2 linked regions of the Homo sapiens genome follow. The protein of the gene in region 2 interacts with the protein of the main gene of each other region in a pairwise test. Each region holds a gene or a part of one and is shown on either strand. Other genes may lie near its edges. The genes, in order: CAMK2D and HNMT.

Region 1 (3,830 bases), on a different chromosome or scaffold from region 2:
TTTCCCAAGAGCCCCAAAAAGAATAATGAGAGTATTGAGGTCTACATAATTGAAAGCCTTTGCTAGAAGTTATTTTCCTCACACAGTATTTCACTTCTTAGTCTGTCAAATCTACCTCCCCATAAAAATGTAAAATTTCTTACCTTTAGTTTTCTTCTAGCATTAAATTTCTTCAAGCAGTCTACAGTCTCCTGTCTGTGCATCATGGAAGCAACAGTAGAACGTTGCTAGAAGAAGAGGAGAAAAAGTAACTTAATTGAGAATATTTAAAACACACTAAGTATAATAATGTCCCTGACTTCATCAAATATTTATTAATGGTGCTGCACCTGCAGGATCAACTTCTAAGTATTCAATTGCCAAAGTTACCTAAAAATAAAATTTTAGTTTTGCCAAGACTACTTGTGACCAAGATGCAACACTGACGTATAGAAAGTATAGAAATGGGCCGGGCGCGGTGGGTCACGCCTGTAATTCCAGCACTTTGGAAGGCCAAGGCGGGTGGATCACGAGGTCAGGAGTTTGAGACCAGCCTGGCCAACATGGCGAAACCGCATCTCTACTAAAAATACAAAAATTAGCCGGGCGTGGTGGTGGGCACCTGTAATCCCAGCTACTCGGGAGGCTGAGACAGGAGAATTGCTTGAACCTGGGAGGTGGAGGTTGCAGTGAGCCAAGATCGTGCCATTGCACTCCAGCCTGGGTGACAAGAGCAAGACTCTGTCTCAAAACAAAACAAAACCAAACCAGAAAGTATAGAAATGAATATTAATAATTTCTCAAATTATCTTTATTTTAATGTCTTCAATCACATTTTGATTGAGCTGCCTTTCATTTACTTAGTGCCACATTTATCACCTTAGCATTTGACACATTTGGAAATTTACTGAAGTCTCCAGATCCCCCTCAAATTTCACACTATTCTTCTTAATATTTCTAAAATATATTCAGACTACTATGACCATTATTTTACGCCACTGAAACTCTACTGTCAGCTGCCAAACTTCATACTTGTTTCTAAAGTTGCCTAATGATAAATAATTGAACTTTGTTAAATCTTTTCTTCTGGGACACATTTAATTTTGGTGTTATTTTCTTAACCTTGTTCATGAGTATTGTTAATAATTGATATGGAGAATACTCATTCCTTTTGTTACTGCAAGCAATATTTATTTAAGAATCTATGCAATTCAGACTTTGCTACTGAAAATTGCATTTTTTCACCATCATAAAATTAATTTTCTTAAACACCTCGAGTCAAAAATTCATTCATTCTGAGTTTCATCTTTTTTTGCAAAGCTATTTTAAATCCATAAACAATATATTAAAGGAGAGCTTATTTTTCATTTTAGTTCTTGAAGTTTTGGAGAAGTTTTACTTACACAGATCCATGGGTGCTTCAGTGCCTCTGAGGCTGTGATGCGTTTGGCAGGGTTGATAGTAAGCATTTTATTGATGAGGTCTTTGGCTTCAGGAGTCACCGTGTCCCATTCTGGTGATGGAAACTTCAAAAATATAAATTTATAAAAAGTTTAAAAAATAGACACACTCGATCAAACAGGGAAGAGTCAACTACATGAATCATTCCCTCAAGTAGTGAATTTCTTCATAAATTTACTTTTTATATAAGTTAAGTTGTATCTAAAATAAATAAAACCATTTAGATCTATTCTCCCCCTCTATGTAGACAACTATATATATTAAAGAGTATCTGATAAGGGACCAACATATGTACTGAGCTGCATATCACATATGGTAAATACATTTTAAAATTCAGAAAAAAAGAACTTAAGAATCTTCTATTCTTCTCAAAGTATCTCTGCTTTGATCTGAAAATGAAATTTTATACAATCTTTCTCATAATTATTTGCAAAACTTAATAAAAGCAAACAGGTTGCTACATGTACCAATGTCATCATGATATTATGCCAAGGTTCAAAATGAGGTATTATATACTTTCACAACTCATAAGCAGTAATAGCAGAGGTAATAAAACAGCTTCAATTCCTGTGCCAAAACTGACCTATTAATCAGGGCTACTTGGAGTGCTGTAGTGAGAAGAATCTGAGACTACAGGAGCTTCAGCAAGATTTCATTTTAACCCTTCAAGAAGTTTAATCTGCCCAATTACAAATTTCACCAAAGTATATGAAAGTAATCAAATCTTATAACTTCCCATTACTAATACTTTTTTATATTAAGACTATATAAGAAAGCTACTTCTCCTTTCTTTACATTATTTTTTGTAGTGATAATTACTTAACTTACTTTTATATGATTAGCATATTTAGTAGAAATACTGTCCTTCAACGATGAAGGGAAATTTACACCACATTAGTTGCAAAATGATAGAATATCAGGTTATTTTCCCAATTCATGAATTTGTATGGACAATCTTGAAAAATAAAGCCATTGCCACTGTGTCATGGAATTAAATTAGTCCATTTTTAGTAGTTTTAAAATGGGGAACTTGTGACTCACTGGCATAATAAAGCATGAGAAAAATGATATTGACTCTAATATCTGTAATTTTTGCCAGCTAAACAATTGCCATTTTTTAATTCCTGAAGCTTATCTTTGGCAGTTGTAAAAGCTTGCTAACTATTAGGAGCTGTTAAAGAAACACACGAGGCTGTTTCTTAATGTTGTACAGGTCTTCTGATAGCAAATGAGCGGTAGGTTCAGCATGAAGAAAGGTGAACATTTTCCTCAGTTCTCTAATTTTCATGAAAGCATTCCTCTAGGTATACCAAGCAGTGCATTTTCAGGGCTACGTCTGCCCAGAGAGGGGCTGGTTCTAGTCTGTAAAGATGGTGAATGTGCTAGCTATTGCCATGTAAATAATAATTTGTTCCAATTACTAGTCTAGGAATAATGCAATGCTTTGAAATTCAAAGAATATACATTTTTAATTCTTGCTGACACACACATCCATCTAAATAGAAAATTTTTATCAGAAATGCATTGAAGAGTTCACGAGACATTATAGAATATAATAAAGACATTTTATATCTTCTCCTCTCACTTTCACATTGAGCTTTCAACTTGTGCACAAAAGGTGAACCCAATATTGCTACTCTGTAGTTACTCTACTTAATAACACATGGAAAGCATGCCCAGACCCTGCACATGGATTTCCATAGGGCTGTATGAGGGGAAACCTGAGAAAGTGGTAAATCATATTTACAAGAATATGTATCAAAGGAGAGCAAATTATATCATAAACACAAAGTTAAGCCATAAAGAGAAAGTAGATAAAGCCTTCCTCTTCAGATTCTGAACTTAATTTATGAATGTATATATATATATCTACTTTCAAATATTCTAATTATAAATTAAATATATTATTAGAATTATGATTTTCAAATTTTTCAATTGTGAAACTCATTCTTCAAATGAAAGCTTGCATAGTATCCCAAACAGTACAAAAACAAAAAACAAAACCCAGAAACTGGTATAGTGGGATAATGTTCTATTTGATATGTGATCACAGCAAAATATTGTTGGTATATAATATAAAATTATGTGATAGATATTTGAGAATATAATTCAACTAAACAGGCAATAATCATTTCTATAGCAGAAATATTTTAATTTTTATGTTTTTAAAATGCACTAAGGTCCAAATATTTTGACAAAGTTCTTCCTCAGAGACTTCACATGGCTTTTCTTTCAATCTTAGGAGACAGTGAGTTAAAAGGAAACGTAAACTGGATACAAATGCTGCATTTCTTTCTCCCTTTCCTTAAGAGAGAGGGAAATAATATGAGAAAGTGGTAAAAATTATGGTTAAAAGAAAAATGAAAAGATCTGGCTCTTGGTCAACAGGC
Region 2 (3,830 bases):
CATGTTTTCAGGTATAAATATATGCACTGTAAATTAATAGCATTCTCTCTTACCAAAAAGAATATGGGTTTCTTTTTTCCCACGTACCATCTAGCATGAAGACAACACTCATTAGAGGTTGAATAATAATGAAAACCCCCATCAAGAGGTTTAATTTAAGGAAGCACCAATGTTGATGGACCCAGAAGCATGTTCTATGAGATTTAGAATATATGCATTACTCTCAAAACCTAAAAACAATTGCAGAAATTAACAACATGAATACTTCAAGACCCTGAATAAAGCAATTCTGGCCACTCATTTTGTCTCATTAAAGCACACAAACTCATATACATGAACATACATGCATAACTTTACACTTCCAAGTTTGGTCTCTGTAAAAGCTACATGGTCTGTTTTTCTGTTCATGGTTTGTTTTCCTCTCTTTCTTCCTATTGGGTTCATATAATATTTATTTCATACATTTTCCTAACATTAGAATGTGTAATCTATGGATAACAGTGTTATTTACCAGTTATAATTTATTGATATGGTAGATGACTCAGAGTCATCTACCTTTCTTTTGAACTTCTCAGAGCCCTAATAATTGCTTCGCATCTAAACTGAAGTGCCAAGCACCTTTGCAAAAACCTCACAATCTCTCTTAAACTATGAAAACTCTTTCCACACAAACACCAGACTCAAGAGGAGAGGCTAATCGATAGGGCATATGTGCATCCCCTCCCTGCTCATGTTTCTGAAAAAAATCAAATAGACCACCCCCCCCCAAAAAAAACCATGAGAATTAAGTGGTATAAAAGTAGCAGTTTCATCTAGGAAGGCTTTTAGCTGGTTTTCTTTTGTGTGTTTTTGAAGCACGGTGGGAGAAGTGGTAGCACCATTATGAATGCTTAGAGAATATTTGCACCAAAGCCATGTGCCTATCTATCTGTGCAAACAAGGAAAGAAACTTGAGGTAATAAAACCTGTAAACTAAGACAGAAATGGGACCCTATGAGATACATTACAGGAGCTGAGCACAAAGGAGTGAACAGGATCAATGACCTCATTTGCTAGGGACTGGAGTTTAATGAATGATTTGGAAGGATACTCAAGCCATGGGACAATACAAAACTCTCAGGCACCCTGTAGATCTTAGAATATGTGGGGAGACCATTTCTCTAAGGCAAGGATAGAAAGTTCCTTGCTGTATAGTAATGCATTGTTCTGCCTGATGCTTGTAGTCAGGCCATAATAGGTGATTAGATAACCATCTCCCAGTTGCTACATGAGCACTCAAACTAACTGAAGTAGAGTGTCCTTTCCCCTCAAAACACTGTTCTTTCAAGCAACAGACACCTAGACCTAGGGATTTTAAATGCATTGCTTTTGATTTCATATAACTTAGTTGGGTAGTGAAAGCTAAGTATATATAACTTAAATTTTTCTTGGAGTTTTTCTTACATTTCTGATTGATTTCTTATGAAAAGTGACCTTAAAGGGCACCCACATTCTCCCCAAGGTGGAGTTTGTTATTAATACATTATTAGGGCTCAGTCAGAAGAACTCCAAGAGTTGTTCCCTTTATTTTGTTAAGTTCTCTGTATTAGCTTCCATGTGCACCTTTATGTAAGGACTCACTGTGCAGGCCAAACGTTCCTTTCTCTAGATAGCTTATAAGCATCTGGATAAATTTGCATTAGAAATTCAATTAACTTTATATTAAAAGGTCAATTAACTTGGCCATGATAGAGATTGTTTTTAATTACTTTTTCTTGTAGGCCTTCTCTTCTTGTCCAAGCACAAGTGACACTATCAAATGATAGTCTCATTGCCTGTTGGTTGCCTGAAACTCATATCCAAAACACACAGGAAATAACTGTCTTGGTTAAATGAATTAATAAGACATTCTTTAGACAATTCATAACTATTATAATTTTGGGGACTTAAAGTATAACCAATAATAAAGTATTTTAGCTTAAATACCCTCTATGGTATTGTTCATGACAATTCCCTTCATTGTCTGTCTTTGTTGGTTTCTATTTTCTTGGTGAAAGATGATAATAAAGTAAAATGATTTTAATGATTAGTTCTTATTACACTATATCACAGTGTATTTCATGAAAAATTAACAAATAATGACATTAACAATTAGTGATCTCTGTCGGGCATGGTGGCTCATGCCTGTAATCTCAGCACTTTGGGAGGCCGAGGCAGACAAATCACCTGAGGTAAGGAGTTCGAGACTAGCCTGGCCAACATGGTGAAACCCTTCTCTACTAAAAAATACAAAAATTAGACGGGTGTGGTGGCAGTTTCCTGTAATCCCAGCTACTCGGGAGACTGAGGCAGGGAGAATTGCTTGAACCCAGGAGGCAGAGGTTGCAGTGAGCCAAGATCATGCCACTGTACTCTAGCCTGGGCAACAGAGCGAGACTCCATCTCAAAAAACAAACAAAAAACAAAAACAAAAAATCAGTGATCTCATTTCATTAGAGAGCTCTTAGTTATCTTTGTGTTAATATGAGCCACAGTTCAACTCATTCATGGGGCACTAGAACACTTATACTTAAGAGGTTCAAGGGATTACCACTTGGCATTAAGTTACAAGTGACAATAGTGTCCACTTGATATCGAGTTGTAACCATTACTGAACTATCACTCAGACAAAAGAAAATAACTAAAGATAAATATATAAATAATATATCTACATATTTTATATATTAATGCATTAACCCAAACTTCCAGATGACTTAAAAATAAGGCAAACACTGTTCAGGAGTTGATATTAGGAAAAGTCTTGAGATGAAACTTATTTTACTTTTGCAGAAGGGAATAGCCTTCACTCTCCAGGAGCAATAAGAATGTCCTAAGCACTTTGTAAATGTTACCTATATCACTCTCACTACAACCTTATGAGATAAAATTCATTGTTCCCATTTTACTGATGTTTTAGCCAAGATCATAAATTTCACTGGAGGCTGAGTTACCTGTGTCCATCTACCTTTCCAGACTTTAAATTTTCCCCTAGAATGAAAGCACTGGATCTAAAAGTAATGACACTATAAAATGCCTATAAAAGTATGCTTAGGGCTGGGCATGTGACTCATGCCTGTAATCCCAGCACTTTGGGAGGCCAAGGTGAGTGGATCACAAGGTCAGGAGTTTGAGACCAGCCTGGACAAGATGGTGAAACCCCGTCTCTATTAAAAATACAAAAATTAGCCAGGTGCGGTGGTTGGTGCCTGTAATCCCAGCTACTCAGGATGCTGAGGGAGGAGAATTGCTTGAACCCGGGAGGTGGAGGTTGCAGTGAGCCAAGATTGCACCACTGCACATTTCAGCCTGGGCGACAGAGTGAGAATCCGTCAAAAAAAAAAAGGTGCTTAGGAGTTATCTGAATGCTAGAGGTAATTCTAAGCATTCAGTTTTGGAACTGAGTAAGAGGAAGGGAACAGATTAGGCCCATGCCACTCAAAGAATGAGTTCACAAGAATGTAAATTAACTCTGTCACTGAGCACATTTTTCCCCATGGTGAGACTTTCTCAATGAAAAAAGCTGTGCATCAGTTTATATTCCAGTGCACATTTCTTTTTTCTTTCTTTCTTTCTTTCTTTCTTTCTTTCTTTCTTTTTTTTTTTTTTTTTGAGACGTAGTCTCGCTCTGTCACCCAGGCTGGAGTGCAGTGGCGCGATCTCGGCTCACTGCAAGCTCCGCCTCCAGGATTCACGCCATTCTCCTGCCTCAGCCTCCCGAGTAGCTGGGACTACAGGCGTCTGCCACCACGCTTGGCTAATTTTTTGTATTTTTAATAGAGACAGGGTTTCACCGCGTTAGCCAGGATGGTCTC

Evidence for each region.
Region 1: the proteins of HNMT (region 2) and CAMK2D interact in a two-hybrid assay, tested with the Homo sapiens proteins (one large-scale study listed by BioGRID and IntAct).

What each region holds. Positions count from the first base shown.
Region 1 is NC_000004.12:113,513,687-113,517,516, forward strand, and holds part of CAMK2D (calcium/calmodulin-dependent protein kinase type II subunit delta), read right to left. Parts: intron 1,506-3,830; coding exon 1,383-1,505; intron 228-1,382; coding exon 144-227; intron 1-143. UniProt on the Homo sapiens protein: Calcium/calmodulin-dependent protein kinase involved in the regulation of Ca(2+) homeostatis and excitation-contraction coupling (ECC) in heart by targeting ion channels, transporters and accessory proteins involved in Ca(2+) influx into the myocyte, Ca(2+) release from the sarcoplasmic reticulum (SR), SR Ca(2+) uptake and Na(+) and K(+) channel transport.
Region 2 is NC_000002.12:137,970,717-137,974,546, reverse strand, and holds part of HNMT (histamine N-methyltransferase), read right to left. Parts: intron 1-3,830. UniProt on the Homo sapiens protein: Inactivates histamine by N-methylation. Plays an important role in degrading histamine and in regulating the airway response to histamine.